Homo sapiens: one gene and its partners. The protein of the gene in region 3 interacts with the protein of the main gene of each other region in a pairwise test. Each region holds a gene or a part of one and is shown on either strand. Other genes may lie near its edges. The genes, in order: VASP, EVL and TRIM9.

Region 1 (11,237 bases), on a different chromosome or scaffold from region 3:
CCAAATCAGAAACTGAGGCCTGAGGTAAGCAAATGGACTTGCCCAAGGCTACACAAAGTGAGGCTGCTTCTGGCCTCCCCTAGGGTGGTGAAGGGCAGGGTGGGATGGGGAGGAAGTGGCCTCCTAAGGGGCATGGGGAGGGAGGCTGGAGGGGGCAGAGATCATCCTGGCTGCGGGCCTGAGGATGAGTGAGCAGGCGCAATATGCAGGGTGGGAAGGAAGATGAAGGGAAGGTGGATTCCTGGGAGGAGGCAGGGGTTCTCAGCAGAGGACCAAATCTTCCTGGAGGGGCACCGGGGGCCGAGCACACCTCCATCCCCATCAGAACAGGCCTTCAAATCACTCCAGAGATCTTAGCATTTATAAAAACTGGCAGATTTATTCTGCAGGGGCCCATTTTCAAGAAGCTAAAGGTGAAGGTGGGAGGGGAGAAGTTTCCTCCCCTTCTCCTTTCTCCCTCATCTTATTTCCTCCAAGGGGTAAAAAAAATGGCCTGGACCCCAAAACCTACCCAAATAAAAAATCAAAAAACTGAGGTTCCAAAAAGTTACAGCATCTTATTTCCTCATAGAAAAGGGGAAGGAGCCAGAGGGAAGGGGAGTCCCTGGGGTGGGGGGATATCTCACCCCCAGCCCGGTGAGACATCCCCTCCCCTTAAATAGCTGCCCCAAATGGGGCAAGCCCAGGGCTATAGCATTTAAAAACTCCCACATCCCATTTTATCAAAACCAAAGAGAAAAAAAAATTTCCCTTTTCCCCCAAAACCCAAATATATATATATTTTTTTTTCTTAAAAAAACCAAAACTTTGAAGGCATTAAGCGTTAAAGTGAATCTAGAACAAGGGAATGTGAAATTCCCTCCTTCCTTCCCCCTTCCTGTGGGGTTCATTGGTGCATCCCCAGCAGAGGGACCGGCCCCAAGGGGATGGCAGAGGGGAAGGACCAAAGGGAGAAAAGGGCGGGGGCCTCCCCAGCCAATCAGCAGCCAGTGTGGGTGTGAGCAGGGAAGCCACACCCCCTTGGAGTTTTCCAAGTGGGATGGGGAGTGGGAACGATGCATTCCTGTGTAGTCTTCAGCCAATTCCAAGTCAAGTAGAGGCAGGGAAAGCAGGGTGACAGGCCGGGTGTGCGGAAAGGAGAAGCGGGTCTTCTGGGTCCCTGTGGTCAGGGAGAACCCCGCTTCCTCAGCTCCTGGACGAAGGCTGGAAGGAAACAAGGAGCAGAGGTCAGGGGCAGAGTCTCTGCCTCCTCCCTTCCAAAACAGGGCTCTTGCCCAGGGACATGATGCCTCCAAAATAAGTAAATGTTTAAGAACAAAACCAAAGCAAACCACCTCACCTTCAATGATTTCCTCTTTCACTTTCTGCAATTCCTTCTTCACCTCTTCCAGAAGCTCCTAAAATTAATGGGGTAAAACTAATCAGGAGGGGGTACCGGGACTTGCAGGAATGAATCCCCCTTCTTTTATTTTTTGAGAAGGAACCTTGCTCTGTTGCCCAGGCTAGGGTGCAATGGCATGATCACAGCTCATTGCAGCCTCAACTTCCCAGGCTCAGGTAATCCTCCTGCCTTAGCCTCCCAAGTAGCTGGGACCACAGTCACCTGCCGCCACAATCAGGTAACTTTTTCTTTTTCTTTTTTTTTTTGAAACAGAGTCTCCCTGTCACCCAGACTGCAGTGCAGTGGCCCAATCTCGGCTGACTGCAATCTCTGGCTCCCGGGTTCAAGCGATTCTCCTGCCTCAGCCGCCCAAATAACTGGATTACAGGTGCCCCCCACAAGGCCCAGCTAATTTTTGTATTTTTAGTAGAGACAGGGTTTCGCCATGTTGGCCAGGCTGGTCTCGAACTTTTGACTTCACGTGATCCGTCCCCATCAGCCTTCCAAACTGCTGGGATTATGGCTGTGAGCCACCATTCCCAGCCTAATTTTTGTATTTTTAGTAGCGATGGGTTTCACCATGTTGGCCAGGCTGGTCTTGAACCCCTGACCTCAGGTGATCCACCCACCTCGGCCTCCCAAAGTGCTGGGATTACAGGCATGAGCCACCGCACCTGGCCTTCTCAGGTAACTTTTAAAAGTTATTTTTAGAGATGGGGGTCTCCCGATGTTGCCCCAGGCTGGTCTCAAACTCCTGGCCTCAAGCAATGCTCCCACCTCAGCCTCGCAATGTGCTGAAATTACACACATGAGCCACCGTGCCCTGCCAGAGTCCCCTCTTTCTTGTTGATGGAAAAGCCAGGGGTAGTAGGTTTGAGACCTACCCCTACATCGACACCATGACATCGCTGTCAAGGTCGCAGAGTGACTGGAGGATTCTAGGGGAGAATTCTGGATCCTTGGAGCCGGAAAAGTACTGGAGAACATCCAGTACCAAGGTTGGCAAGCGCATTCCAGCCTCCTGCCAACTCCAATTGGTGATGGACAGCTGGGTCAATGTGCGGAAAGAATTCAAGGCACTCATCTGGAATGAGCGCGGTGATAGATTAATAATGTCTGTCACAGGTGCCAGAAAAGGGGGTGTGGAGTCTCGGTCATCCTTGACCCAATCCAGTTTCTCCATTTGTCAGATTGGAAACCTGAGGTTTCTGAGATGTTATCTAGGATCATACGGCATGCCAGTGGCAGGGGCCAGACCTAGATCTCTCTTGCTGTGGTCCCCAACTTCCCCCCCAAGTTACCTGTTTCACCCTCTGTAGGTCCGAGTAATCACTGGAGCTGGGCGTGCAGGGTTGGGTCTCGGAAGTGGTCACCGAAGAAGACGACTTCATCCTGGGGGAGTTGGTGTGGTTTGGGACAGCAATGAGATTAGAGAGAGGACCTGCTTCCCCGCCTCCTATTCCAGGGGTCACATTGAGCTCTGCCTTATAAATTGGGCAAGTCCAAGTATTTTTGGGGCCCCAGTTTTTTTTTTTTTTGGTTTTGGTTTGTTGTGTTTTGTTTTGAGACAGTCACATTCTATTTCTCAGGCTGGAGTGCAGGCATGATGATGGCTCGCTGAGGCCTCAACTTCCTGGGCTCAAGTAATCCTCCCACCTCAGCCTCCTGAGTAGCTGGGACCACAGGTAAGTGCTACCACGCCTGGCTAATTTTTGTAGAGATGGGGTGTCGCCATGTTGCCCAGGCTGGTCTTGACCTCCTGGGCTCAAGCGATCTGCCCGCCTTTACCTCCCCAAGGGCCCCAGGACCGATGGCCTACCTTGGCAAGGTTGTGCTGTTCTTCTCCCAGGGTCTCCGCACAGATTCTGGGGATAGGCAAGAAATCAGAAAGATCAGGGACAAAAGACTGCCCCCCAATCAATCTTACTCCCCCAACCTCATCAGCCCCTGATCAAAGCCCCATCTCAGGAGACTACAATCCCCAGCACCATTCGCCCTGACTCTCCTATAAGGGTGCTTAACATGTGAGAACAGAGTATTCTGGGATTTGTAGTTCCTGTGGCTGGACTGGGCACTCTACTCACCACTCTGGGCCGGGACTCTGGCCTCTGGCTCCTCCTGCTGGTAGGAAATAAAACTGCCATGAGCCAGCCCCTGCCACACCTCTGCCCATTTCCTCTTTCAGGTTCAAACCCCACACATCCCACTATCCCTACCCTCATGGTACGGCCTAAGAGATGTAGGGCAAGAAGAGTCCCTGACTTACATTGGCAGATTCATCCTTGGGGGTTTTCTCCCCAACTTGCGTGGCTTTCCTTCTGCAGGAGAGAAAAGCAAAAACACGTGCTTCCGTCACCCAACCCATCCCCTTCTGAGGGGAGTTCTAGAAATGTAGATCCTAGCGCATAGAATTCTGGAACTCCGAAAACCTAAGGAAACTCTAGTTTTAGAAATTCAAGAGATTGTGCTGGGCGCAGTGGCCTGTAATGCCAACACTTTGAGAGGCTGAAGCAGGTGGATCTCTTGAGGTCAAGAGTTCAAGACCAGCCTGGCCAACATGGTGAAATCCTGTGTCTACTAAAAATACAAAAATTAGCCGGGTGTGGTGACTCATGCCTGTAATCCCGGCTACTTAGGAGGCTGAGGCAGAAGAACTGCCTGAACCCAGGAGGCGGAGGTTGCAGTGGACCGAGATCATACCACTGCACTCCAGCCTGGGTGACAGAGCAAGACTCCATCTCAAAAAAAAAAAAAAAAAAAAAAAAAAAAAATTCAAGAGATTGTGGTTCTAGAATCAGGGTGGAGGAGGTTCTATGATTCTTATATTAGGGAACAGTAAGATTCCGAGGGTGGAGCGGTGCTGTGTTGGAACACTGAGATTGCAGGAACCTGAGTTCCCAGAATTCTGAGGCAGGATCTCCTACGGTTCTAGAATTCTGGGTTTTAGAACATCTACAGGCTACCTAGGTGGTTGCAAGCCTCAGGCATTTCATGACAAACCCCACCATTATATCCCAAACCTGGTTATCAAAGGGGGAACATTCACCAAAAGAAACAAACTAAACAGGAATTGGAGCCCTCCTCTGACTGGGCCCTACTGAACTGGAACTCCAGGTGACTTGGGGGTCCAGGCTCAGGCTCACCTCCGGGCCAGCATGGCGTTCATCTCTTCCATGAGTCCCCCACCTCCGCTTCGACCACTCTCAGCTTTGGGGGCTGTGGGCCCCCCTGAGGCCTCCTCCTGCTGGAGAAATTTAAAAGGGGCAGGAGCTTTAGGGGCAGGCCTTTTGGCCTTCCAGCCCAATGACACCGCCGGCAGCCCTGGCCTCATCCCCCATAAAAGCCCTGTTGCCCCCTGCCCACCTCTCCCGGCCCCTCACCTTGCTGACTTTCCTGAGTTTGGCTCCAGCAATAGCTGCGGCCAGGCCTGGGGCCCCAGCTCCCCCACCACCAGGGCCCTGTGCTGCCGGGAGAGGGGGTGCAGGGGGTGGTCCTCCCCCTGCTCCGTGCGCTGCAGCTGGGACCCCCGAAGGGGGCAAACCTGGGGGTGGGGGGGGACCTGGAGGAGGGGGAGGTCCTGGTGGTGGGGGTGGACCCCCAGCGGGGGGAGCAGGTGGGCCTCCTGAAACAAACACAGAAAAGGGGGCAGCTGAGAGAGAGAAGCCTCATTCTTCACTGTCCAGCTGGCTGGCCACTTCCTCCAGGGAGGCCCCCTCCCAACTCCCGAAGCTATCTGAGCATCACCTGCATTGGAGACCCGGCGCTCTATGTGCTCCGACGGGCCGGGCTGCTGCCTGTGGGGGGAGGCGAGAGAGCTGCCGTCAATCAGGGCCCTAAGGATGGCCAGCGAAGGGGCCAGCGACCTCCGTCCTCTCTCTCAGAGGTCTCCAGGGTGGCTGGCTCCTAATACTCACCCAAGCCTTCCTCCCCTAGGGAACCAAGAAGGGGGCTGGGTGAGAGTAGGGGGAATGGAGGGCAGGGCAGCGACAGGGAGAGATCAGGATGCGAGATCCCAGTCACTAAACTGTCAGGAACACCGAATTACAAAATGCCCAAGATTCTTTCTTTTCTTTTTTTTTTTTTGAGACTCTGTCACCCAGGCTGGAGTGCAGTGGCTCGATCTTGGCTCACTGCAACCTCTGCCTCCCGGGTTCAAGCGATTCTCCTGCCTCGGCCTGCCGAGCTGGGATTACAGGCACGGGCGCCACCATGACCGGCTAATTTTTGTTATCTTCAGTAGAGACGGGATTTCGCCATGTTGGCCAGGCTGGTCTCAAACTCCTGACCTCAGGCGATCTGCCCGCCTCGGCCTCCCAGAGTGCTGGGATTACAGGCGTGAGCCACCACGCCCAGCCACAAGATTCTTTCAACCACCATATTCTGATTTCCAGGAATCTGCAGGGACCAGGAGGTTCTGCAACTCTGAGTGTCAGAAGTTTCTTGAACATTCTGAAAACTGCAAGTTGGCTGGGTTCTGAACTCTAGGAGTCAAGGGTTCCAGAACATATGGAACTCTGGCAGCGGCTAAGGTTCCCCACCCAGGGCCCAGCCCCACCTTTTCTGCTGCTCCACCTCCTCCGGGGAGGGGCCGTTCGGGACCGACCAGGTGGGAAGTGCTGGGGGTGGAGGGGGCCCACCTCCTGAAAGGTGAGAGAGAAAGGGCCATGGATCAGTCCCAGAACTCTGCTCAGCTCTTGGCGCTTCCCTTGCTCTCCCAGGCCTCCCAGGAATCCTGCCCAGAGGCGCTCACTTCCTCCTTCCAGAGGCCCTGAGGCTCCAGGCCCAGGAGGACGCACATTGGGAGGTGAGGCAGCACCAACTTCCCTGGCCTGAGTTGCCCTAAGGTAGGTGCTGTTGTGATGTCCCAGTGACAGGAGAAGCTAAGGCCCGGGGAACAGTCACTTGCCCCAGATTTCTCCAGGGTGGAATGTGCAGGAACAAGACTTGAATTCAGGCTGATTCCAGCAGCCAGGCTCTTAACCACTGTTGGTTTGTTTCGAGACAGAGTCTCACTCTGTCACCCAGGCTGGAGTGCAGCAGTGCAATCACGGCTCACCACAGCCTCCACCTCCCGGGTTCAAGAGATTCTCCTGCCTCAGCCTCCTGAGTAGCTGGGATTACAGGCGCCTGCCACCATGCCTGGCTAATTTTTGTATTTTTAATAGAGATGGGATTTCACCATGTTGGCTAGGCTGGTCTCGAACTCCTGACCTCAAGTGATCCACTTGCCTCAGCCTCCCAAAGTGCTGAGATTACAGGCGTGAGCCACCGCACCTGGCCCCTGGCTAGCTCTTAACCACTGTTACAGCCACTTGGACCTTACCTAAGAACCTGGAAAGGTAAAGAGCTTCTTCCTCACCTACCTCCAGGCCTCTGGCCCTAGCACCTGAATTGAATTGGCTACGAATTAACAATGAATTAGCCCCAATTTACAGATGACTCAACTGAAGCCCACTGTATTTTTCTGTGTGCCCCAGAGGAGCAAGCCCCTTCCGCACTAGCACAGAAGTTGTCCCACGAAGCAAACACCCCTGCATTTGGTGACTTTCAGTTCTACAGCAGTGATTCCAGGCCAGATGCACGGCAGTCACCTAAAACCTCACTACTCAGTCACGTCCGCAGACCAGCAGCCTGGGTATCACCAGGGCACTTGTGAGAATGTGGAGTCTCAGTCCGCCCAGCCCACCTGCACCAGAGCCTGCACTTTAACCAGATCCCCAGGTGATTCATGTGCACGTTAAGGTTTAAGAAATAGCAACTGGGCTGGGCGCGTGACTCGCGCCTGTAATCTCAGCACTCTGGGAGGCCGAGGCGAGTGGATCACCTGAGGTCAGGAGTTCGAGACCAGCCTGGCCAACACTGCGAAACCCCGTCTCTACTAAAACTACAAAAATTAGACAGGCATGTTGGTGCACACCTATAGTTCCATCTACTCAGGAGGCTGAGGCAGAATTGCTTAAACTCAGGAGGCGGAGGTTGCAGTGAACTGAGATCACACCACTGCACTCCAGCCTGAGAGACAGAGTGAGACTCCATATTAAAAAAAAAAAAAAAAAAAAAAAAAAAAGGCCGGGCGCAGTGGCTCACGCCTGTAATCCCAGCACTTTCGGAGGCCGAGGCGGGCGGATCACGAGGTCAGGAGATCGAGACCATCCTGGCTAACACGGTGAAATCCCGTCTCTACTAAAAATACAAAAAATTAGCTGGATGTGGTGGCGGGTGCCTGTAGTCCCAGCTACTCGGGAGGCTGAGGCAGGAGAATGGCATTTACCCGGGAGGCAGAGCTTGCAGCGAGCGGAGATCGCGCCACTGCACTCCAACCTGGGGACAGAGCGAGACTCCGTCTCCAAAAAAAAAAAAAAAAAGCAACTGGGCTGGGTGTAGTGGCTCATGCCTGTAATCCCAGCACTTTAGGAGGCTGAAGTGGGAGGATCACTTGAGCCCAGGAGTTCAAGACCAGCCTGTAGACCATCTCCACAAAAAGTAAAAAAAAAAAAAAAATTTGAAATGATCCAGGTGGCCAGACATGGTGGCTCACACTTATAATCCCAGCACTTTGGGAGGCAGAGGCAGGTGGATCACTTGAGGCCAGGAGTTTGAAACCAGCCTGGCCAATATGGTGAAACCCCTTCTCTACTAAAATACAAGGGCCGGGCATGGTGTCTCATGCCTGTAATCCCAGCACTCTGGGAGGCCTAGGCGGGCGGATCACAAGGTCAGGAGATAGAGACCATCCTGGCTAACACGGTGAAACCTTGTCTCTACTAAAGATACAAAAAATTACCCGGGTGTGGTGGCTCACGCCTATAGTCCCAGCTACTCGGGAGGCTAGGGCAGGAGAATCGCTTGAACCCGGGAGGCGGAGGTTGCAGTGAGGCAATATCGTGCCACTGCACTCCAGCCTGGGCAACAGAGTGAGACTCTGTCTCAAAAAAATAAAAATAAAAACAAAATACAAAAAAATAGCTTGGGCATGGTGGCACATGCCTGTAATCCCAGCTACTCAGGAGGCTGAGGCACGAGAATCACGCGAACCCGGGAGGTGGAGGTTGCAGTGAGCTGAGGTTGCACCACTGCACTCCAGCCTGGGTGACAGAGCAAGACTCTGTCTCAAAAAACAAAACAAAAAAAGAGCCAAGTATGGTGGTGCACACCTGTATTCCCAGCTACTTAGGAGGCTGAGGCAAGAGGATCACTTGAGCCCAGGAGGTGAAGGCTGCAGAGAGCCATGATTGTGCCAGTGCACACCAGCCTGGGCAACAGAGCGAGATCCTGTTTCTGGGGCAGGACCTACCTATGTCTTGATCTGGGAGGTGGTTTCCCGGGAGTGTGCCTGTGTAAAGTTCATGGAGTACTGATCCCTGAGTAATCGTGCATTTTTTTTGTGTTTGTTTTCTTTCTGAGACGGAATCTTGCTCTGTCGCCAGGCTGAAGTGCAGTGGCCTGATCTCGGCTCACTGCAACCTCTATCTCCTGGGTTCAAACACTTCTCGTCCCTCAGCATCCCGAATAGCTGGGATTACAGGCGCGCACCACCACGCCCAGCTAATTTTTGAATTTTAATAGAGACGCAATTTCACCATGTTGGGCACGGTGAAACTCCTGACCTCAGGTAATCCGTGTGCCTCGGCCTCCCAAAGTGCTGAGATTACAGGCATGAGCCACGGCGCCGGGCCAATGGTGCATTTTACACATAGGTGCACACGGTCACACTGGAATGCACAAAATGCTAGTGATAATTTTCCATGATAACAATGAATTCGCTCTATTTTACCGACGAGTAAACCAAGTCCCAGCAGGGTAAAGCGGCAGCCCCAGGCCACACAGCCGCATTCACTGGTCCCCTTTGCCCGCCGCCATTTCTGACCTTCCAACGCCTCTAGGGCACTGGCCATGCCGGCGGCAAACTGGGCCGCATCCTCCTTGCTGCCGAAGTTGAGGCCCCAGACCTGGCGAGCGTCGCGCCACTGATGGAAGTTGGGGGTGGCCTGGTTATACTTGACACCCCGGACGATGGCACAGTTGATGACCACCTGGTGGGAGGGGAAAGGGGGGTGAGGGGCGGCGGGCGCAGGGGTGGGGCGGGTAGGGGTTCAGCCCACAGAGGGGGCCGGCGGGAAGCTGCACCTGCTGGTCGGGCTGCATCTTCCGGCCCACGACGCGAAAGGAATTGGCCGTGGGGTTGTGGTAGATCTGGACGCGGCTGAAGGCCTGGGGACCCGTGCCAGCAGGGAGCCATCGCTTGTTGCCATCATCATAAAGCATCACAGTGGCCCGGCTGGAACAGATGACCGTCTCGCTGCAGGCGGGAGGAAAAGGGAGAGGGGCCGGTCACCTTCTTATCTGGGTCTCTCCTGGGAGATTCCAAGGGACAAAGACAGTGTGTGGAAGGAAGAGAGTGACACAGAGGGAGGCAGGAGCCACGTGGACAGAAGGAGACGGGGGAGACAGATCAGGAGAGAAAATCAGATCAGGAGAGACAGGCAAACACACAAACGAGATGCAAGAGACAGACGCAGAGAGAGGTGGGAAAGGGAGAGTCGGGTTGACAAAGAGGAGAGACAGACTGAAGGCAGACAGACAGATGAACAGATGGGGGAGGGGTGGGGAAAAAGGATGGGCAGACAGGGGACCTGGAGGAAGAGGCAGACACAGAAAGAGATAAAGATGGTCTTGGCGTGGTGTCTCACACCTGTAATCCCAGCACTTTGGAGGTTGAGGCAGGAGGATCACTTGAGCCCAAGCATTTCAGAGCAGCCTGGGCAACATAGTGAGACCCCATCTCTAATAATAATAATTATTATTATTATTTTTATTTTTGTTTTTGAGACAGAGTCTTGCTCTCTGTCACCCAGGTTGGAATGTGGCCTCGACCTCCTGAGCTCAAGCGATCCTCCCACTTCAGCCTCCCAAGTAGCTGGGACTACAAGCATGCACCACCACACCCGACTAATCTTTTTTTTTTTTTTTTTTTTTTTGAGACAGAGTCTTACTCTGTCACCCGGGCTGTCCTCGGCTCACCGCAACCTCTGCCTCCCAGGTTCAAGCCATTCTCCGCCTCAGCCTCCTGAGTAGCTGGAATCACAGGCATGCACCACCAAGCCCAGCTAATTTTTTGTATTTTTAGTAGAGACGAGGTTTCACCATGTTGGCCAGACTGGTCTCGAACTCCTGGGCTCAAGTGATCCATTTGCCTCAGCCCCACAAAGTGCTGGGATTACAGGGGTGAGCCACCACACCCAGTCCACAAAAAAACTTTTTTAATGAAAAATAAAAAACACAACACAACAAAACTAATAAGAAGGAAAAGATAAAGATGGAGAGACAGGCTGAGGGGTGTAAGAGGCCGAGGCCAATGCCAGTGGGGGGATGCGGGTTAGCAGAGCAGAGGGCAGGAGGGAAGACAGAGGGGCCAGAAGGAGGCCAAGAGCCCAGAGCTGCACTAGGGACCAGCCCCTGCCTGACCTCAGTTTCCCTATCTCTACGCACCCCCCTCCACCACTGCCTGCTCAGGAAGAAGCTGAGGCTTGGGAGGGGAAGTGTGAGGCCTGCAGCAGGTTGGGGACCCATCCCAGACCTCTGAGCTCTTCCTCCAAAGGGACTTCCCGCTGCCCACCCCTCGCCTGGCTCCCCAGGGCACTAGCGGCCATTCCCCAGATACTCCCTGCTCTGTGTCTGGCCTATATTGGGTGGGGCTGGGGATGAAGACACAGCAGTGACCCAGACAGCTCCGGCACCACCCTCCTGGGGCTCACAGTCCAGTGTGGGAGACACAGCTGTCCCCAGACGGTACCAACCCAGGTTTAGGACCAAGGAGCCCAGGGTCTGGGGGTACCCTGAAGGAACGCCTGCCCCA
Region 2 (11,237 bases), about 49 Mb from region 3:
AGCCCAGGCCTCGCCCTCCAAGGGCCTAAGATCTGGCAGGAGACAACGAGTCTCCACAAGCAGTCGTGCCTGTGCAGAGGGCCTCGGGAGAAGACCGGGGCTGGGATCAAGTAGTGAGGAGCTTTGTGAGGCCTGGGGGTCGGGAGGCTGTTTTTTTGTTGTTGTTGTTTGTTTTGTTTTTGAGACGGAGTCTCGTTCTTGTTGCCCAGGCTGGAGTGCAATGGTGCGATCTCTGCTCACTACAACCTCCGCCTCCCAGGTTCAAGCAATTCTCCTGCCTCAGCCTCCCGAGTAGCTGGGATTACAGGCATGCGCCACCATGCCCCGCTAATTTTGTATTTTTAGTAGAGATGACGTTTCACTATGTTGGCCAGGCTGGTCTCAAACTCCTGACCTCAGGTGATCCGTCTGCCTCGGCCTCCCAAAGTGCTGGGACTACAAGTGTGAAGTGTTGAGCCGGCCGGGAGGCTGTTTTTTAAGGTGTAAGGGTGATGCAGGGAAGTGCAGGCTGAATGGGAGTTGGCTGGTGGGGCAAAGGGACCCATATGTGCCCAGGACGGGGCTGAGAGGCGTGGATCAGCTGGGAGGGCTATAGCCTCAGGGTAACACCAGCATGACCCTGACTGATGGGAGGACAGGGCAGGAAGCCTGCTCTGGTCCCTGGCAGTTTTATTTCCTCTCTGATTCTGCACTGAGGTGGAACCTTCAAGGCATTTGTAGTTAAGGCTAAACTTAGCCCTGTCAGTAGGAGTCTTTTTATAGGAAAAGCTTAACATGGAGGAAAAGAGAATTAGCCGCCCTAACTGGAAGCAGATGTTGGGAGCTCTGGCAGCCAGGCTGGCTCTGGGCTGCCTGGTAAGGACAAGAGCCAGGGGTCCAGGGCTCCTTTGCCACAGCTCACCTGAAGCTCCTGCTGGAAGAGGAGTCTTTAGAAACAGAAATAATTTGAAAATAAAAACCTCTCTGGGCTTCTGGCAGACGTGCCCCTCTGCAGTGTACTCCTGGAGTCCCAGTCCCGCCGAGACCCTGGCTGGTCTGTGCTCCCCGGGGCTCCTGGGAAGGCGAGGTAGCCCTGCGGTGCAGCGGCCAGCGCCTCAGGCTGCAGCTCCAAGGGTGGAGCAGTGTCTGGTAGGGGGTGCTCAGTGAGGGCAGGCCTGCTGCTGGGGCCAGGGTGGCGCAGGGACAAGCACCGCAGAGACCCTCCGCCCCTCCTGTGAATCACCTGATGAAGCGCCCATCCCACGCATGTCCCAAAGGCCTCGCCTGAGACCAGAGAGCCTCCCTGGCGATGCGCTCATCTCAGTGGGGAGCCTGAGGGTGGGGCGGGCTGCTTGCTCACCATTTGGCTTTCATCTTCCTTCTTCTCGGCTGGCTTGTCTGACTGGGAGGCTGCTTTTCTCCTAGGCACAGAGAAGGGGAAGATACAGATCAGCTCCTCACGTTCTCTCACTGTCCCAGAACTCTTCTGCCTCCACCCTGCCAGACTCACCCCGGTCCTCAGATAAACCTGTGTGGGAAAACGATGGCGTGAAGGAGGCGGCTTGTCTAGGCCCCGTCTGGTGAGGAGCCAGGCCCAGGCAAATGTCCAGGCCCTCCGTGTGGTCATGGCCTGGGACACAAAACTGGTCTAGGCAGAGAGGGCGAGATGCCTCTATGTCTGTTTAGCTCTACTGGCAGCAGCTGTAGCATCTGAGGCGTGGAGGGGAGGCGGGCACGCTCTGTCCCCAGGACACTGAAGGCCTGGCCACACGGGACAGAGAGGCATCTCTCTGGGCTGCAGTCTGTCCCACAGGTCGGGACACTGGACACTTTCTTGTGTCACTCTAAGGCCCTTGTGTCTTGGAACTCAGTTAACCCAGCCACGCCCTCCCCAATCTAGAATGCCACTCAGAGCCTGGAAATGCTCAGAAGAGGAGCCCTGGAATAGGTCCACGTGACGCCCTTGAGTCGGTTCGTGCACCTCCCCAGTATGAATCCCCGTTTCATGTACTCTAAAACCTCACCCATATTTTTTGGCCTCAGTGGTATCTGCTGACCTCCCAGGTCTACAGAGGCAGGCAGACCCTCAGTGTTTCCCAGAGATACGCTTCTGTGGCTTTTCAACTTGAGATGAGCTGCCCATCAAGCATGGAGCTGGTCTGAGGTGTGATAATGGGCCGTGGCCAGGCTGTCACCTGTCTGTGATGGGCCTACCTGGCAGCCTCCTCAGCTACAGCAGGGGCCCCCTTCTTTAGCTCCCATCTCAGGACAGGTCTGCCCACCTCGTCCCTCAGCCCAGAAACCAGGGAATCATCCCTGACACCAGCTTCTTATAACTGTCAGCCTGGTCAGTTCTCTAAATCTGGGTACCTGCCTGTCTTTTTTGTCTTCACCTTCAACACCTTCCTGCATGCCCCTATCATCTCTTCCTGGACTGTCAGAGTCTCCTAACTGGCCTAGCCACGATCACTTACACCTCACCAGCTACCCCCCAGCAGCCAGTGTCCCATCTCCTAGAAACAGAACGCTGACCAAGCCACCTGCTCACGGGGAGTGTAGGCGGGATGAGTGTCTGTGAAAGTGCTGCTGAACAGGAGCTTTCTGTCCACGTTCATTTCCCTCCTGCCCTCCACTGTTGGGAGACTCAACTGCATGCCCTCAGAGGCGGGAGACAACCTACATGAAAAGAAACCTGGCAAGGGCACTTTCATCGTCGGCTCCACCCAGTAGCCATCACTGAGGTGGATTTCAGAGAGCACCTGATTGATCCCTGCTGAGCTATGCAAAGCATGTTTGTTCTTGGGAGGGCCTTGACTCTCCCACCGGCATCTGGCATCTCACTGGCTCCTGGCAATACTGGCCTTTTCCTGTTCTCAGACAGAAAGGTGCTTCCCCTCAGCTTGGTCTAGGACTTAGGGAAAGCATTCATATTTTCTTTTCCAAAACTATTTCTATTTCTCTGTGGCCCATCCTCGCCTCTGAGTGCTCTGAGGTGGAACCCGATGCCCTGCACCAGGAGGCTCCCTCTTCCAGCCTGACTTTTGGTCCATTTCCTCCACACCTAGCTCTCCAGGCACAGGGGGCGTCAGCCTTCCCAGCCTTACCTTAACTCTGCCCACTGTCCCTCTTACAGCACGGGACGTCCTCATCGTTCTGCGAGCCCTCCCGGCTCTCTCACCCACGGAGCCATTCGCCTTTGTGTGGCCACTGTAAGCCCCACACACCTGGACTTACTCTCACAGGAAACTGCTCAGAAGCCTGCCTCCTGTCTTGGCGATGTACAAACGCCCAGGCCCAGTAGAGGCTCCGGAGACGCCCGTGCTGCGGATCCACCTTGCTGCTCCCTGACACACGGGGAGCCTCCCCTCCCTGCCATCTGTGATGCAAGCAAAGAGCCCCTTGGCAGGAAACCCAGGCTGTGGCCCTGCCATGAAGCGCCACACCAGCTGCCTGCAGCTGTGGGCCTCTGTCATCTCGCATCATCCTCATGGAGCCACGGGAAGGTAATGAGAGGAACTAGGACTGCAGTGTGAAGACCCTGGGCACACAGAGTTCTCACTTGGGTCAGCCAATTGGAAGGCAGCTGGGAGGGCCAGGAGAAGGCGACAAAGTGGCAGGGGGTGGAGGTGGGGTTACCAAGGGAGCAGGGCCCCCGCTGCAGCTTCCTCTGTTCTGGCAGGTGAGGCCTACTCCCGTGCCCTCTGGTGCCTAAGTGAGCCACGATATTGGTAGTCCAAGGTGAGCACATTCCTGATGCCAAGTCATATTTAAAAATAAAATCCAAGCTTTGCATCCCTTTTGAGAAAGACCTGGACGATCTCCCCATCTGCTCGGGTTTCATTTGGGGAACAGCGGAGAGCCACAATGGCAGGCTGCAGCCACACCCGCTGCAGCGAGCAGACACACATGGCCAGGTCTCAGGCCCAAGAGCCCGGCCGGGATGTAGATGGAACTACTCTCTCTCCGTCGCTCAGGGCAATGCCCTCTGGGCTCCTACCCTTCATAACTCCTTCTCCTGAGTCCTCCATAAAGAACCCTGGAGAATGGGGTGCCTTCACCACACATTCACCAGAGTGTCCTCTGCAAACTCGACCACTGCGGCCACATCTTATTTCTGTTAGGATCTTAAGAGCAAGGACTGTTCTTTTTCCCGCATTTATCTCTGAAATTGTCTCCACATTTATCTCTGCTCAGGACAGGGCTGGTACATGGTAGATGCTTCAGGAAATATTTGCTGAGCTAAAATGAAGGATCTGGAGTTTAGAGGACTCCTGTGGGCTTGCGCTTCAGACTAACCCCTTGGGAAGGGAAAACTTAAGTAACAGTTTCCCCTGCTTGGCTAAACCCAGGGAACAAAGATTCTGGGGTCAAGAGAGGATTCTCTGTGCAGCGCTGGGGGCGGGGGCAGGAGCTTCCTGCTAGGCACACCAAGTCTCGGGAGGTGTAGAGACCCACCTCTTGGCCAGCAGTTTGTTCATTTCCTCCATGAGGCCTCCTCCGCCACCCCCGCTGCTTGCCCGGTTGGCATCGGACTTTGAGGTCCCACTGGGACTGGAGCCTCCAGATGCGTCTTCTGGCTGAGGAAAAAGGAGGCCGCGTTTTAGATTCTGCTGCTGATGGCAGAACAGGAGCAGCAACGATGTGAGGGGATGCAGGGGACTGTGTGCGTGTGAATCCTATGGCAGCAGCACTGCAAGGGGCCTCAGGGGCCATCTGGTCCATTATTCTCCAACCCCACAGGGGAGAAAACCAGAATCGAGAGAGGGACAAGGACCAGCCCAGGTCACACAAGTCGCAGACACTCCCCAGGCCTGCAGACTCATGGTTAGTGTCTTTGCCAAGACCAGCCATGACACATGGAGGGAGGGAGGGAGGGGAGAAGAGACTATCCTGTGGGAAGGAAACACAATGTAAGCCAAAGGTCTGTATTAGAGCTATTCTTACAAGCACAGTTCTAGAACATATGAGCAAGGGTTAGGGAAGAAACAGCCGGGTGGACCTAGTTGCCAGCATACAGCTTCCTACAGTGGAAAGGGCAATGGACATAGATTCAGGAGACCCAGGCTTGAGTCCAAAATCTGCAATTTGTAAACGGTGTGACTTGAGCAAATTACTCGTGCTCTTTGTGCTTCAATTTCCTCATCTCTAAAGGGGGACATAGTTCTTGCCCCACGTGTGAAGGTCAACGTGAGGCTCAAAGGCTAACTTCATAATTTCAAAGTGCTGTCCCATGTGATTTCTCGTTTGAGAACAAGTGGCCAAGGGCCAGCTAGCTTTGGGCAGGGAAGCAGTTTGCTGTGTCTCGCAGATGCGGGAAGGAACACAAGCGCTCTGCAGATGGCACAAGGGTCCCCTCGGTCCCATTCCCACCCCGCACACAGGAGCTCTTACCCGTTGGACTCTTCTCAGCTTGGCCCCAGCTATGGCAGCGGCCAGTCCTGACATGGAGCTCTCGTCGTGGCTGGACCCCTGGGCTCCTCCGGCTGGCAGTGGGGGTGGGGGAGGTGGGGTAGCCCCAGTGGGTGGAGGTGGGACTGGGGGTGGGGGGGGCGGTGGAGGCCCACTACATGAGACGGGGGCGCTGGCTGCAGATGAAGGATGTCCTGGTGGGAGGATGGGCCCTGAAACACAACAGTGAGGCTCAGCCAGCTCCAGCACCCAGCTGGGGGCCAAGCCTGCTGCTCTCAGCTCAGGTTCCCCGGAGGAAGGACAGGGGCAGGCTGCTCCCCAAAGGGATGAGAAACAGCTCCAGGCCTGCTTCATCCAGGAAGCCTCCGCGGGATGAACTTGGCTCTGGCACAATTATTCCCTATTCTGGTGTCCTCAGTACTCCGGGGCCTGGCTGGACCCACAGGTGTCCTCTATTTGCTTAACATTCCTTGAGCCCAGGCAATTTCCTCTTGCTCCAATCATGTTTTTCCAGGGGGAGAGGAAGCTGTCTGGTTACAGTCTGTGCCTCTTCTCTTCTCTGCTCCTTCTAAGCACCTAGCACCCCCTAGGCAGAAGTTGGTCACCAAGATCCAACTGTGACTGACACTTGGGTCGTTGGGGGCCGTGGCAGGTCCTGTGGGTCCCAGGGCCGACTGGGGGCATGGGTCAGGGCGCAATGCCGAGTGCTGGGCTCCAGCATCATCCATCCAGCCCCTTCCGCCAGTGCTGCCTAAGCCTGTTTTGTGCCAGGCACTGTGCTAGGTGCTGGGTATGGTGCTGAGGAAAACCAGCCACAAGCTCTCTGCTCAGGGTGCTCACAGCCTATGAGGAACAGTCAACGAATCGCAGAGGTAAACGCAGATGGAGGACTGTGGCAAGCTGACAAGTGTTACCAAGGGCAGGCACACGGCGCCATGTTGGCATACAAAGAGGGGCTCCAGCCTGGCCAGAAGTTCATGGAAGACGGACGTCCTCCATGACGTCCTCACGGAAGTGACTGTGGAGCTGGGACACGACCGGAGAGCAGGGGTTCAGTTAGGTGAAGGGGGGAGGCAAGTGTGAGGAAGGAGGAAAAGGATGGGAAGTGCTTGCGAGGCACTAGAGGGAGAGAGGGCAGGCACAGGCTGTTCCAAGAGTGATGGGGAAGGGACGACATGATGACAGTGTCAGACCTGCATCAGAAATGCAGACTGGCCGGGGAGCAGGAGGCCAGCAGCAGCTAGGTGGGGGTGATGGGGTCAGCCAGCATCTCACGAGCAGAGCGTTCCTGTAACCAGTGGGGGCTCGGGTTTCTCATCAGTCAACAGGATAATAGTCACCTGCTCACTTCATAGGGTGTTTGAGAAAATTAAACAAGACAAAGGACATGAAAGCACTTGGTAAATTATCCAGTCCTTTGCCTATCAGTGAACATGACAATTTCTGGAAAACCCTCGTCCTTCTCCTTTAACGTGCTAAGCTCCACCGAACGTCCAAGACAGACGCGTGGCAGCGCCTCCTGTGGGAAGTCTTCCTGACCCAAGGTAGGCCTTCAGCACCTGCACGTCACTTGCCACAGTGTTCACTACGTGACATGACAAGGGTGGGTTCACTGTCTCCTTGAGTGGACAGCGGGCTTCCTGAGGGCAGGAACTGCATCTGCAGTCATAGTTGTGTCCCCAGCCCTTAGCACGGTGCCTGAGACACAGGAGGTGCTTGCTGAATGTCCACTCCGGAGAAGGTTGGCAGGTAGTGGCCAGACCCAGCTGAGCAGACTCCCCAAGCCTCTGCTCTGCTCTCTTGCTACCCTCACCATCTGAAGTGGTGGTTGCACTTTGAGACCTAGGCTCCCCATAGCTGCTCACAGAGCGCCCCGTGTGTCCCTGGGCCTCATCTACGTGGAGGGGCTGCCACCTGGCAGCAGCATGGGAGTCGGCCCTAGGGGAGGAGGGCTCTCACCTGTGGCCGAGGTTCTTCTTTCTAGAGATTCCTGACGCTGCTGCTGGTGCTGCTCCATCACTTGTCTGGAAAGTAATCACAGCAGGGCAGTCTGACTCCTCCACTCTGGAGACCACCACACTCTGTGCCTGTGCTGTACCCGCCGGCCCCGGCTTCAGAGTCAGGTTTCGCCAGCGCTCCACAAGCGCCACTGTGTGCCACGGCTGCCTCCACTTAACAGAGGAGGGGGATGTGACTGGGTCCAGCTCCCGCAAGTGGGAGCACCGGCTGTCTCCTGAGTCTCAGGCACACTGAACACAGAGCTCCTTATGGAAGGCCAGTGTGATTCCACTCCCCAGAGTGACCAAGCTCTTCCCTGGGCTAGATGGGCGCACCTGGCTTTTGGGAGCCTGTGGCCTCAACAGACCCAGCCTCAGGAACGCCTGTTCTTAGTGGACCTGGCCAAGCTTCCTGGGACAGTTCTCAGGTGTGTTTTGGTTGCCAGCAGAAATGGACACAAAGGCCACACTCCTCATTTTCTTTACCACTGAGCGGTCATAGGCCCGCCTTCGTCTAGAGGGCCATTTGGTGCACCGTGGCACACTGCTACGTGCACAGCAGTGGGAACTCACATCCCAGTGCCTTATGGCAGGGTGGCCTCAGGGTGCTCTTAAAGGCAAGCTGAGTGAGGACACTGAGGCCCAGATACATCTCCAGAATCCAGGGATCGAGTTCTGGAGTGGGAGGCACTTTAAGAAATCATCCAGGCCACAGACAGCATCAAGAGCTCAGCTCGTGTGGTGCAAACTGAACATGTGCTGTGGAAACACAGGGCTAAGGATTGTTCTGAAGGCAGCTCTGGGCTTGGTGGGAGTGCCAGAAACATCTATTTCATGGGGTTCTTGTAGGGTGTATGCCTTAACTAAAACATTATGGAATGGCTGGGCGTGGTGGCTCACGCCTGTAATCACAGCACTTTGGGAGGGTGAGGCGGGCGGATGACGAGGCCAGGAGTTTGAGACCAGCCTGACCAACATGGTGAAACCCCATCTCTACTAAAAATACAAAAATGAGCTGGGTGTGGTGGCGCGCGCCTGTAATCCCAGCTACTCAAGGGGCTGAGGCAGAAGAATCTCTTGAACCCAGGAAGTGGAGGTTGCAGTTAGCCAAGATTGCGTCACTACACTCCAGCCCGGGTGACAGAGCAAGACTCCATCTCAAAAAAAAAAAAAAATTACGGAAAAGCCCCTTTTAGCATTAAGGTCTGAAAAGCTCCCAGCAGCATCTACATTAGTGTCTCTGCTCAAACTGCTGAAACCTCCCCAGCAGGAGCCACACACCTAGAACACCATGGTAAAATGAGGATGTGTGAAAAATACTCAAGTCAGGTCTGAACCTATGGTACTGTTTGGATGCTTGGAGTCTCTGCGTCACTGAGTAAGTCTTGCCCCTGCCCACCTCCAGTAAAGTTGCGTGGGACAAGCGAGAGTCTCCCTGCCGTGTGTGTGTGTGTGTGTGTGTGTGTGTGTGTGTGTGTGTATTCCTGCCTTGGGGCAGGTGTGTGTGTGTCTGTGTGTGTGATCCCGTCTTGGGGCAGGTGTGTGTGTGTGTGTGTGTGTGTGTATTCCTGCCTTGGGGCAGGTGTGTGTGTGTGTGTGTGTGTGTGTGTGGTCCCGCCTTGGGGCAGGTGTGTGTGTCTGTGTCTGTGTGTGGTCCCACCGTGGAGCAGGTGTGTGTGTGTGTGTCTATCCACATGTGGTCTCATCTTGGGGCAGGTGTGTGTGTGTGCGCATGTGTGTGGTCTCGTCTTGCAGCAGGTGTGTGTGTCCGTCCGTACGTGGTCTCGTCTGGGGGCAGCTATGTGTGTGGTCCTGCCTTGGGACAAGTGTATGTGCTTGTGTGTGTGTCCCCTGCTGTTCACACCCCGACCGCCAGGCGGTATGCCCATTCCCGGACGGCCAGTGACCCCACACAGCTTGGATTGGGCCCTGGGGTACAGAATTCAGCACTGCGGGTGATGAAGCAGTTTCGAGAGAAATGAAGTACCCATTTAGCCATCCACGCCTGTACGCTTACACCTGGCGTCTGGTGGCTCACTCCTTCACGCCCTTTTGTGGGTGGGACCAGCCTTGGGTCCCGGCAGGGAGCTGCAGCTGGAGTGAGACTTGACTGCCAGTCTAGGTTCTGCCTGACTCTCTGGTTACTCTGGGCAAGTCACTTCCATTCTCGGCTTCAGCTGGCTCATGGGGACAACAGTAAGAAAAGCCCTGAGGGTGAGTGGGTGAGACAGGTGGGGAGCAAAGCCAACACCATCTTCAAACCGGGAAACGGAGGCTTGGAGCAGGAACTTGCCCAAGGTTGCAAGGCATTCATTTCTCAGTCTTAGGAAAAGGCCAGAGGAGAGGAGGTCTTGGGAGAAGTCCGTATGCCATTTGGTGAGAGGGGTAGGTGGGGGCAGAAGCCGGCTTTCCTGACTCCTAGTCCAGGGCTGGACATAAGTGTAGCCACAGAGAGCTGCAGCTTGACTCCCTATCTGACAAAGCTGAGTGAGGAAGGCCCGGGCCAGGCCCTACCTCCCTCGACACAGAAGAGGCAGAGGACCCATCGCTGAGAGGGCAGACCTGGGTTCAAGTCCTGACTCTGCCATTTCAGAGCAATGTGACCTTGGGAGGCTGCTCCATGGGGACTCACCACGACTCTGTAATTTCGGGACAACAGCCTTGGCCCTTCCTCTTCCCCACTGTGGTAACACTTTAGAAGCTCCATGGGGTGAGGGGGTTCATTCCTATGGTCCCTAGCCCCATCCCATGGGCGTGACTGCCCCAACAGGCTGAATCCCTCATGCCTGGACTGCCTCCTGCTACGTTGGGGAAGGGCAAGTGAGGCAACAAGGGAGCAGCACTTGGGCCCTGCTGGGTCACCCTGAGAGCCGTCCCGCTGGAGGTCAGCAGCACTCTCTGTAGAATGCCAGACTCCCACAGTCATTCCTGGTCTTGGTGTCCGGGACCAGCGGCTGCGCATCGGCCCCCTCTTTCTTCCTGGTCTGGCTTGCACCTTGCACCCTCCCGCAGTGTATGCCTCTAGGAGTCCTGGCCTTGGCTGCTGGTGCATCCTCACCCGCTGAAGGCACCCCTGGCCACCCAGCCTGATTGGGAGATGACCAGCCTGGCCCCTGCGGGTGCTGGGTTACCTTCTCTGGATGTCCATCTCATCAGGAGAGGGGCCATTCTGCACCTGACGCTGGCTGGAGGGGCCTGTGGGCAGAGAAGCACAGAAACAGTGTGGTTAGAGGAAGAAAGGCCCCAGCAAACCCAACTGGAGTGCTCTCTATCTCTGCCCACCTTCTGGCTGCAGAAGAGACATCCTTAAGAATCTTTTTAAATGTTGGCCTCACTCACACCTGTGCATCACTCACTCCATCTCCTCTCTCAATCACCCTCTCTCTCTCACGGCTCTTCATTCTGAACCAATAAATGAGACCCAAACTTTCACATGGTTAAAAATTAACCCTTTCAGTTACTGACCCTGCTCGCCTTCTCTCTCAAACTATCTTCTCACTGCTTCGACCTTCTTGCTGGCCACCACCCCCTCAACCCTTTAACATTGAATCTGGCCTCTTTACATCCCACCAGGATGTTCTAATTAAAATCAGCGGGGAACTGGGAATTGCCAAACCTAACAAGTCCACTTGATTCCACTTTCTGAGCAAAGGACTGACACTGACAGCTGGCGGATGTCTTGGTCAGAGTTAAAACCTGGGTGTGTCTGAGCTGAGGCCTATGCTTCTAGACCTGGGGTGACCCCTGCTGTCTACAAAGGGTGTCTGGAGCTGCGGGTGGGAAGGAGCCAGACCCTGCCCTTGCTCCCCTTGTTCTAGACTGGTGTGGAACTTTCTGGCCACACCCTGCCCT
Region 3 (9,577 bases):
TAATCAGAAATCTGGATTCAATAGCAAGCCCTCCTTTCTTCTCAGTGAGTTGAATAGATAGGCAAAAGATTAATGCCTACAGCAGAGGGAGGAATAAAGGGACCTCATTTCTAGAAAATAAAATGATTTCTTGCAAATCACTTATTCACTCCTATAAGGAAATATGAGGAATTACAAGTTCCATTAACTTCAGTACCACGAGAAGAGTAAAACATAAGCAATGCGTTCCATTAGGTAGTAAACAGAAGAGCAGAAAACCAGAACAGAGATGGGACCAACAGAGGAGGAAGAAAAAAGTAACATGGTAGTGGAAATGATGGCACCAGCGGCCCATCTGGAGCCACTGCTGCAAAGACTCTGGCTGCAGGGGGCAAGGTGAGCCTGGGGCTGTCTGCTCAACGGAGCCAGTAGGGGCCGGGAACAGGCGAGAGCCCTGCTCCCTACTGAGTTGGCAGGGCCAAAGCCCCAAAATCCCAGGCGCAGCTGCGGCAGCCCAGCCATAACTCTGGACTTGGGCATCCCTGCGCTCTTGGGGGCCTGGGAAGCTCCCCTCCCCCCGTAGGCTCAGAAGTACCTGCTCCCGCTCCTTGGCCTCTCCCTGCTCCTGGTGCCCCCTCCAGGGTGGAGCAAAGTTGTGGTCAAGCCTGGGCGCTGTCGGAAACCCCCCAGGTGTGTGTGTGCTTGGGACAGCACTGTCACACCAGCCTTCTGCCACCTCAGCCCCCTCTGGACTTTGGGTGCTGATGAGCATGGGAGGGAGGCCGAGGTGGAGCCGAAGATAGCCCAGTGCAGGCCTGCAGGCACCCCTCAGCACAAACATCCTCGGTACTGTGGAAGGCATGTTGATGGTGGCAGGAGGAAGTCATGCTCCTGGACAGAAAAGGGCAGGTCCCTGGTGAAACCCCTACCTTCAAGCCAGGGATGGCCTGAAGCCTGGGGGCCAGGCTGCCAGTTCTGGGGTGAGTCCGTGGCCCAGAGTGAGAACTGATGATGCTGTTTCCAGGCCCATCCATGCCTGCCTATGGATCATTCAGTACACACTTCCTTCCTTCTGAGCCCATGAAAACCCTGTGCTCAGCCAGACGTCGACACTACCAGCTGCAGGAAGGAGTTACCCACTCTGGGTCTCCTCTCTGCTGGGGTCTGCACAGACATCAAGGTGACCTGTCTGTGGAGGGAGCTACCCACTTCAGGTCTCCTGAGAGCTGTTCTGTCACTCAATGAAGCTCCTCTCTGCCTTGCTCACCCTCCAGTTGTGCAGGTACCTCACTCTTCCTGGATACAGGACAAGAACTTGGGACCTGCTGAATGGTGGGACTGAAAGAGCTGTAACACAAACAGGGCTGAAACCCTCAGCCACCACCCTCAGCTCACCATGTTGCAGGTGATGAGAAGGAGAGAAGAGCTGTGGCCCTTCTGGGAGCCCATACCTAGGGGCTCCTGGAGCCAGGGCTGTGACACCCTCTTTGGGGCTCTGTGGTTCCTGGTATCTCCAAGCTTCCGGGTGCCACCACATACCCTTCAGCCAGATGCATGTTCCTGTAGTGGAAGCTGTGTGCAGTACATCTGGTCCAGCCATAGCCTCTTACAGAGCCAACAACTTTGCTGGTGCCTGGAGCTGCCTGCCCTGCCACAGCAGCTGGCCTGCCTGGCTGTGTGCAGTGGCCAGACCCAGAGCTCACTTGCCCACACACCCCTTGCCACTCCACACCTGACTCACCCTTAGCAGGTGTGGGATCCAGGCTGGTAGTGTGAGCCGAGTGCAGCCTGCCAGGCCGAGTGGGCAGAATGAGCCCAGTAGGTGCAGGCAGTACTCAGGCAGAAGGCGCTGCCAGCCACAGAGGTTTTTGGCTGGAGAAGTGACACCCCAAGGATCCCGTGACAGAAAGAGGAATGTGTAGAAACTGGAATCAACGGAGAGCAGCAGCAGCTACCAACTGTGTACTATTCCACTCTGTGAGGTTATAACTCAGACCATATATTTGTAGGTAATGTTTTTCCTTTAATCAAGAAACAAAGTGTTTTTTTAGTGGCTAACAACAATGTTAGGTAGATGAATAATGTTGTAATTATTGTTTTGCCATTCAAAGAAATGTTAAAGGAGCTAGGTTTGAAAAAGTCAGTGACACTCTGTTTTGCAGTACTATAAAATTGCAAGCCAAATGTGTGGCTTTTTAAAAATAAAGTAGGCCAGGCTCACGCCTGTAATCCCAGCACTTTGGGAGGCCGAGACGGGTGGATCACAAGGTCAAGAGATCAAGACCATCCTGGCCAACATGGTGAAACCCCGTCTCTAATAAAAATACAAAAAAATTAGCTGGGCGTGGTGGTGTGTGCCTGTAGTCCCAGCTACCCGGGAGGCTGAGGCAGGAGAATTGCTTGAACCCAGGAGGGGAGATTGCACTGGGCCAACATTGCGCCACTGCACTCCAGCCTGGTGACAGAGTGAGATTCCGTCTAAAAAAAAAAAAAAAAAACAGAAGTAAATCCCCAATACTTGGAAGCAGACCCCAGACATCTCCACTGGACATTTCACATCAGGTTAAATTTCATATGAGTAAAACCAAAAGGCAGTGCCACATGCCCAAGGAAACAGGGGAAAGAACACATGCTCTCCAGAGCTCTGGGGGCCTTTCCAATGAGATCTTCCTGAAGAAACATCGCTCTGACAAAGGTGAATTGTCATCCGCAATAGATAAAAACTAAGAAATTCTAGAGACATTTTATTCTCTCATAAAAATCATTTATTGGCACATCAGAAATGACAATTTTTTCTAGTATAGTAGTTGTATGCATCTGTAATTGCAATTCAGTGTAAACTACATGTTACAAGTCACTAGAAATCTAATTAGCAGGATGAATTTAATAAAGAACAAGAGGAACTATGAGTCTACCACGGCCCAGCCATTGAGTCTCATTGGAGAGTAAATCAAATATCAAACTAGTGTTGCCCTGCAACAGTTTTTCTGTAGCCAAGAAAAACCAAGACACACATAAACAGGATAGCACCCATTCCATAAATTAGGTACACTTAACTAGAAAAAGATTGTAACTGATAGAAATAATCTAAATAAAGTAAGCACAAAAGTAAATAATTAGCTATTTACATATATTCCTTTTTGCCAAAACTTTAATTTGTTAGCTTTCCCATCCTATCTCTTCCCTTCTATTTGTTATTCTTGTTTTTTCATGGTGAATTTCTTGGCTCACTGAAAAATATTTAGACAACTAATTAGAACTTCTTTCCGGGTCCTACCTTTCCTAAAACTTTATGACAAACTAATGAATTTCAAGGGTAACCTATGTAAGTCTATCTCTATATAGAAGTAAGATGCATTATTATTCTGCTATCAGTCATAGTAATGACATACAGTCCCATGTTTTTCCAAACATTGTTTGGACTACTCCAGAAAATTAGGCTGTGAATGGCAGCAGAGTGGATGGATTTTTCATTCATAACAGGCACAGATAGTATATATGGAGACAAGCATGTTTATCCTGAGAATGTGAATGCTGTGGACTGCAACTCAAGATCTCCCATTACTGAGAATGGGTCCTTTGCCCTCTGGTCACTCTTTTTTTTTTCAACTGTCAATTTTTAAGGCGTGGTATCATAGCAGCATCAGCAAATAAGAATGCTGACATCATTTCTACCAAGAAGGGCTCTGTGATGAGTGGCAGCAGGTACCATAATTAAATAGTGCAGCTGAAAAGGCATTGAGTTGGTACATTTCTGGTGCTATGGCCAGAATGTGTGGATTTTTAGCATCATTCTAGGAAGCCTGAAAGATCTTGCCCATGAGTCTCTTTGACCCTTGCCCATTTCCTTTCTAGTACATATGACCATTTATAATTATTTTATTTTTGCTTTTTCTCCTACTGGAATATAAGCTCCGAAGGGCAGAGACCATGCCTGTCTGTTCACCACTGTGTCCCCACAGTGTCTAGAACATAATGTTCTAGTGTCTTGAACAGTGCCTGGTCAATAGTAGGTTCTCAATTAAAAGCTTTTATTAAATAAACGAACCAAATCATTAAGTCCCCTGGTTTGCCTGTGTCTTAGAGACTTTCCAATTTTATACAGTGGCCAGGGTTCTGGCCTATCCTAATTATAGAGCCATCCTAACGATCCTACCCTGATGTGAACCTGTGTAGCGGATATTTTTGTGCTTCAATGAGTAGTAAAACTTCTCAGTGATAGATTCATTCTCCCAAAGCTTAGCTCTGCAGAGCTAACGCTACAGGAGAGGTAAGAGGGTAAGAACATTCTAGCAGGTAAGCTGTATGCTACAAATTCAGCTCATTCTTCCCTACCTCCCCCTACAACCTCATTGTTTGACAGAAAGCTTAAGAAAAAAAGTTAGCAGGAGAATTTTCTCCTGGCGGTGCCAGTCCAGTAAGTCACCAATAACCTGATCAGAAAAGAAAGAAAATATAACTCACCTACATAAAAAATTAAGTTAAATAAAAGCAAAATCTGGGAGTGGGAACCAAGTGACTTGGTGGGCTGTCTAGGTCCTTTGTTGGTTAGAATTGTTGGACATGGAAGCGGAAGCAGGCATGACAGCGGAGGAGAGGTTGAAAGGGAAAAGGGCAGAGCTGTGGGTGTAAAGACTGCAGAGGACCAGCTTTTCTCTCCTCCTTCTCCCACTCCTGCCAACTCTGCACCCCACCACGGCTGGCTGAGCTCCTTGCTGTGGCTCTCGCAGGCGGAGGTAAGAACAGGCAGCTGGCGCCTCCACGGCACATCCTTAGGCTATTGATGCTCTGCTGGAGTAGAAGTCGGGGACTGGGAGCCCGGTGTGCAGCGTGACCTGGGGAATGAGACTGTGAGTCCTGAGAGGCATCGTGCATCCCCCTGTCCCTTTACACAGTGTACCGTGGGTGTGTCCCTAACTCAAAAAGTGTTCTGTTTGCTTCGCTTTAAACATCTAGGCTAGCAGGCATTAAACGGAATTCAAGAAGAATCCTGCCTATGGTAACAGGCTGCTCACCATGGTGGGCTCTCAAATCCTGGTGACATTTGATTATATGGTTCTTAGTCACCTGCCTCTTTTAAAGGATTCCGGGGAGATTGTGTTCCTTATAACTGAAGACACAGGCCTTGGTTTTCAGATAGAGGAGCCTACTGGCCACACCACAGTGACCACTGCCAAATCCATGGATAGAGGACAGATTCGCAGAGACAGCACTTCCCTTATTACTTGTCCACTAGTTATTGTAATTAGGGCAAACATTTCTTTCTGGGGTCGCATAGATGATTGCCAGTTGTGAAAAAACATGGCATTATACTATTTTACCAATTTCCGTGTATCCCCAAACCTCAATGGATAGCTATGGATAAAACTAGAACCATTTCATGCAGTTCTTATCCCTGTCTTCTCCAGCCCAAGAGTCTTTATCAATAGATAATCAGAAGGTCCTGAAAACCCCTGAAGAGCATCTAGTATAATATTCTTTGAAAGGGAAATGGCTAATGTGAAAAACCTTGAATGGGGTTTTTCTGAGACTCGCTTCTAGGGTAATTTATGGTTTTCTTTCTTAAAGTGTAGAGGCTGAACTCTGAAAGATTAGATTCCAGCCTTCTAGAAAACCCCATCTCCTTGCAGGGAGAAGGGCAGGGGCTGCTAGTTTGCAATCAATGTTACTGCACATACTGAAACACAACAATGAATTTTGATAAATAGTTTCCAAGGCTGGTTCTGGATAGGGCAAAAGTCACCTGTAATTCTCAAGCCTTATCTCAAGACAACCATTTGTGGAATGAGGCTCATAGTTGTTAATGAGATGCCCAGCTCAGGAGGGAAGTGAAACCCTAAGTCCTGACAGCGGCTGGCAGGGCACAGCTCTTCCCCCATGCATGGCTCTGGTCCCCCTTCCAGGCCCCAGCCCAAGAGTCTCTCCACCATTCCTTGCCCATGCAAGGCCCCTCATGCCTTAGAAACTGTGCACAGGCTGTTCCCTCTGTCTGGAAGGCTCCACGCAACTCACTCCCTCACTCCTTTAAGGCTCAGCTCACCGGTAACTGCGATAAGCCCTACCTACGCAATACTGTGGCTGCCCTTCCCAACCACACCACTCATGGGCCCTTGGTCTTTTCTCCACTGCACTAAACACCTTCTGACACACCATCTGATTAACATTGTAATTATGCTTATTATTTATTGTCTGTCTCCTATCACTAAGATGTAAGTTCTATGAAGGCAAGATTTTTATCTGTTTTTTTGTTTTTTTTTTTCACTGATGTATCCCAGACACTTATAACTGTGCCTGGCACATTAAAGGCATTCTATAGATATTTGCTGAATGAATAAATGAGAAGCTGTTGTTTTATTCTATAATAAATAATAATTGACTAAGTTGTAGGTAGGGACTATGTTTTCTACCCCTTAGGACCTAACAGAGCCAAACAAGAGTGCAGAGAAGATGCTCAGATTTTCTGATAATGATACTAATGCTTCAGTCTTACACCCTCACCTCTTCTCAGGCACTCCTGAGCTTTGTTAAGTCATTCTATTTGTTTTCATGCCAGTTGGTTAAAGGCTTTCGTTTCTATTTAGAGGTGAAACTAGAGCTACAGAGATGATCATTAGCCAACCATGAAGAGAATTCTAGTTTCCTATGTGCTATTAACTAGTCTGCGTCCAAGTATAAAGAAGGTGCTTATGCTTGGCGTGGAATAAAATAAGTTGCCAGTGCTGATCCCTTTCTCTCCTCCTCTCCTTCATATCTTGGTCTGGGCCTTACGCTGTCAGCTTCCCTCTCTTCGGTTGGATTGAACGGCCCTGGGCAGCCTTTGAACCGGTAGCCAGCAACAGCTGTTTAACCTCAGGGGCAGGGTGCTTACCTGCACGTTCCTGTTCAGGCTGACCGCAGGGAAGAAGAGGCCCTCCACGTTATCAAATGCTATGGGACCTTGTTGTTCATCGTTGATAAAAAATGTCAAGTTTTTTCTATTTAAGTCGAGGAGGACCCCAATTGTGGCCCCTTTTGTGATCCCTCCCTCAGTTCTGTAGGAAAAGAGAAAAATTGGGGTTCATTTCCTTGTGGTCACTCTAGAAGCTCCCCCCTTTTGTGTGGTGAAACCAGTGTCTTGCAACCTGTTTATAATCATCACTACCCCAAAACCGTTTCCCTAATCATCCCTTGCACATAAATTTTAATACCGCAGATATACTGTATACCTGTTGGTACTGTGTGTATATCTGTGTTTTATACATAACAAGAGTATGATTTTTTGCTCCCTCCCTGCCACCATCAATTTTCACTTCCTAGGGGGAGATATCTGCCCTTGTGAGTTGCTCTGCTGTTGCTGAGAGTGAACTCATTCATTAGGGTCTCTACCACTGAGTCACAGCAGTAGAAAACCAAACATTAAAGACTAGGAAAAAGTCGCCTTTGGGCTATCAGAGCTCTGACTCTAGGAATATTGCACACTTTGTATAAATGGTGTGAATTAAATATCATTAAATACAAAGTGACTTAATTTGAAAGTCAAAATAAGAAGCACTTTTGTTGCACCTAAACCACATGCATGAGAAATTGGATTTGGGGCCTTATGTTATCCATTAAACAGAAAAACTCATTCCAGAAGGATAGCAGTTTTTTGGCTTGTTGCATTTGAATTAAGAACTTGGAGGCTGTCTGTGAAATGACAGCACTGAAGAAGAGGCTTCTTCTCTGTACAGTGAAATAATTATACTCTGAGATGTAGTGATTTTAAAGAACCTGCATACAAATGCCATTTTACAAAGAATTGTGTCTTATGCTTCAATTGATGGTTTCACAAAATGCCATTAAAAATGGACGATCAGATTTGTCTTTCCCATTTTTTTGAGATCTAGCAATATTGAACTTCGTCCTCATCTCAGCAGAGCACAGGAATTTGTGTCATTCATTTCCTCTTGCATGCAGGATACAGACTGTACATAGTCATTAAAAGACAGGTTTACAAATTGCCTCTTGCTACTTCACAGGTTTAACAATGAAAGCACAAGTGACATGCAGGTTGCATGCAAGCAGATGTGTTCAGCATTAAGAATGTGTTTCTCTGCATAGTGTGATGGTTATGTCATTATTCACTCCTGCACTTCAAAACAAAGACGCTAAAAGGGAAAAAGTAAGTGTGGCATTTGGGTGATAGCACTGAGAATCTATTGACAGAGAGTTCCACAAAATGCCGATCACTGAAGATAACCACTTATCTACATCCAGTAGGATTTGCTTTCATGGTGAAATGGTGTGTGTGTTCACTTCAAGTGACAGCGAATAATACACACTTGAATGCTATAGAAGCTATCCAAGGGAAAAGGAGGCTTTAGGAGTCTACAGGCTGGAGAAGGGTCAGTGATGAGCATACAGAAAAAGATAAAACAGTGGGGTCCAATTATCCTACCAATGTCTGACTTGCTTTCCCTTTGATCTGGTTGAACACTACTGTATTTTTTTTTTTTTTCAGAGACACTAATGAGAATGTATCCTGGGGAAATCTTGGAGCATAAGGTGGACCAGGGTCCACAGTAGAAATTTCTCTGCCTAGGAAATTTGTGAAAAATACATTTGAGGAACACAATCAAATGAGAAAGGAAATCCATTATAGTATGTGTTCAATTATAATGATCTATATTTTGGTGGTAGAAGAAAACCTCAAGGAGATTACTGTATTTCCTTTCCTTAGCAAACTGGCTGCTCTGGATTAATACAGTAATAAGAGAGTTCTCTATAAGTAGAAAGCCATTCAAATTGGCATCCATAAGCTTTAGTTTAATGAATCGTAATAAGAAGAATGGCTACTATTTTCAGGTGCTTCCAATGTAAGGCATTTTCACATATTTCATTTAATCTTCAGAAGATTCCCACAAGGAAAAATTTTATTGTACTAATTTGATGGATTTGGAAACTGAGGTTCAAAAAACGAAGTAACTTGCCCAAAAGTGCTTTTCTGTTAAGTTGTAGGTCTGGGTGTTTCAGCATCCTGGATTGTTTTCTTATAATGGATATCCATTGGGATTCTTAGTTTCCAGCCATGGGTGAAATACAGCAATGAAGGGAGTAGGAAAGTACTCAAGTCTCTATCATTATATAGAAAGTAAACCACCAGCATGGACTCAGCTGAGGCTCATAGATTGCCTGTGCTACTTAATGTAGACCACCTGTTTGATTTCCTGAATGTGGTCTATGTAATAGGTTTTTGAACTGGGGCTCTCACTCCTGATCAGAAGCCAACGTGAAGAAGGCTTGGTTTGGGGGCTGCAGGGTACCTGTTGGTGTGCGAGTTGTTGTGCATGAACCAGCTCCGGTTATTGTCCACATACATTGCCCAAGCTTTGTCGTCTTTTCCTAACATCACATCCTTCATCACGTCCATGCGAGCCACACCAAAGGCAGGATCAGGGTGGTTGTCATAGCGATCTACCGTGAGCTCCCAGTAGTGGATGCCCTTGGAGAAGCCAGTCTTCCCTAGCACCACCCGGTCATCATAGCTACTACAGGTCACTGTCAGGTTGTCATTGGAGAGGATGATGTCCGAGTGCGCCGAGCCAGGGTCGAAAGCAAACCAGGCCACTGGGAACAACAG

Evidence for each region.
Region 1: the proteins of TRIM9 (region 3) and VASP interact in binary tests that used the Homo sapiens proteins (3 or more experiments, as listed by UniProt).
Region 2: the proteins of TRIM9 (region 3) and EVL interact in binary tests that used the Homo sapiens proteins (3 or more experiments, as listed by UniProt).

What each region holds. Positions count from the first base shown.
Region 1 is NC_000019.10:45,516,106-45,527,342, reverse strand, and holds the end of VASP (vasodilator-stimulated phosphoprotein), read right to left. Parts: intron 9,681-11,237; coding exon 9,509-9,680; intron 9,415-9,508; coding exon 9,249-9,414; intron 6,394-9,248; exon of another isoform or gene 6,100-6,393; intron 6,022-6,099; coding exon 5,937-6,021; intron 5,176-5,936; coding exon 5,126-5,175; intron 5,004-5,125; coding exon 4,762-5,003; intron 4,626-4,761; coding exon 4,525-4,625; intron 3,700-4,524; coding exon 3,648-3,699; intron 3,503-3,647; coding exon 3,466-3,502; intron 3,247-3,465; coding exon 3,201-3,246; intron 3,067-3,200; exon of another isoform or gene 3,030-3,066; intron 2,774-3,029; coding exon 2,683-2,773; intron 1,398-2,682; coding exon 1,340-1,397; intron 1,204-1,339; coding exon 1,166-1,203; 3' UTR 360-1,165; downstream 1-359. UniProt on the Homo sapiens protein: Ena/VASP proteins are actin-associated proteins involved in a range of processes dependent on cytoskeleton remodeling and cell polarity such as axon guidance, lamellipodial and filopodial dynamics, platelet activation and cell migration.
Region 2 is NC_000014.9:100,122,882-100,134,118, reverse strand, and holds part of EVL (ena/VASP-like protein), read right to left. Parts: intron 10,581-11,237; coding exon 10,517-10,580; intron 7,413-10,516; coding exon 7,348-7,412; intron 5,601-7,347; coding exon 5,371-5,600; intron 4,557-5,370; coding exon 4,435-4,556; intron 3,788-4,434; exon of another isoform or gene 3,659-3,787; intron 3,483-3,658; exon of another isoform or gene 1,401-3,482; coding exon 1,340-1,400; intron 1,073-1,339; coding exon of another isoform or gene 960-1,072; intron 1-959. UniProt on the Homo sapiens protein: Ena/VASP proteins are actin-associated proteins involved in a range of processes dependent on cytoskeleton remodeling and cell polarity such as axon guidance and lamellipodial and filopodial dynamics in migrating cells.
Region 3 is NC_000014.9:50,972,540-50,982,116, forward strand, and holds the end of TRIM9 (E3 ubiquitin-protein ligase TRIM9), read right to left. Parts: intron 9,565-9,577; coding exon 9,261-9,564; intron 7,011-9,260; coding exon 6,848-7,010; coding exon of another isoform or gene 6,752-6,847; exon of another isoform or gene 4,824-6,751; intron 4,815-4,823; coding exon 4,752-4,814; 3' UTR 2,727-4,751; downstream 1-2,726. UniProt on the Homo sapiens protein: E3 ubiquitin-protein ligase which ubiquitinates itself in cooperation with an E2 enzyme UBE2D2/UBC4 and serves as a targeting signal for proteasomal degradation.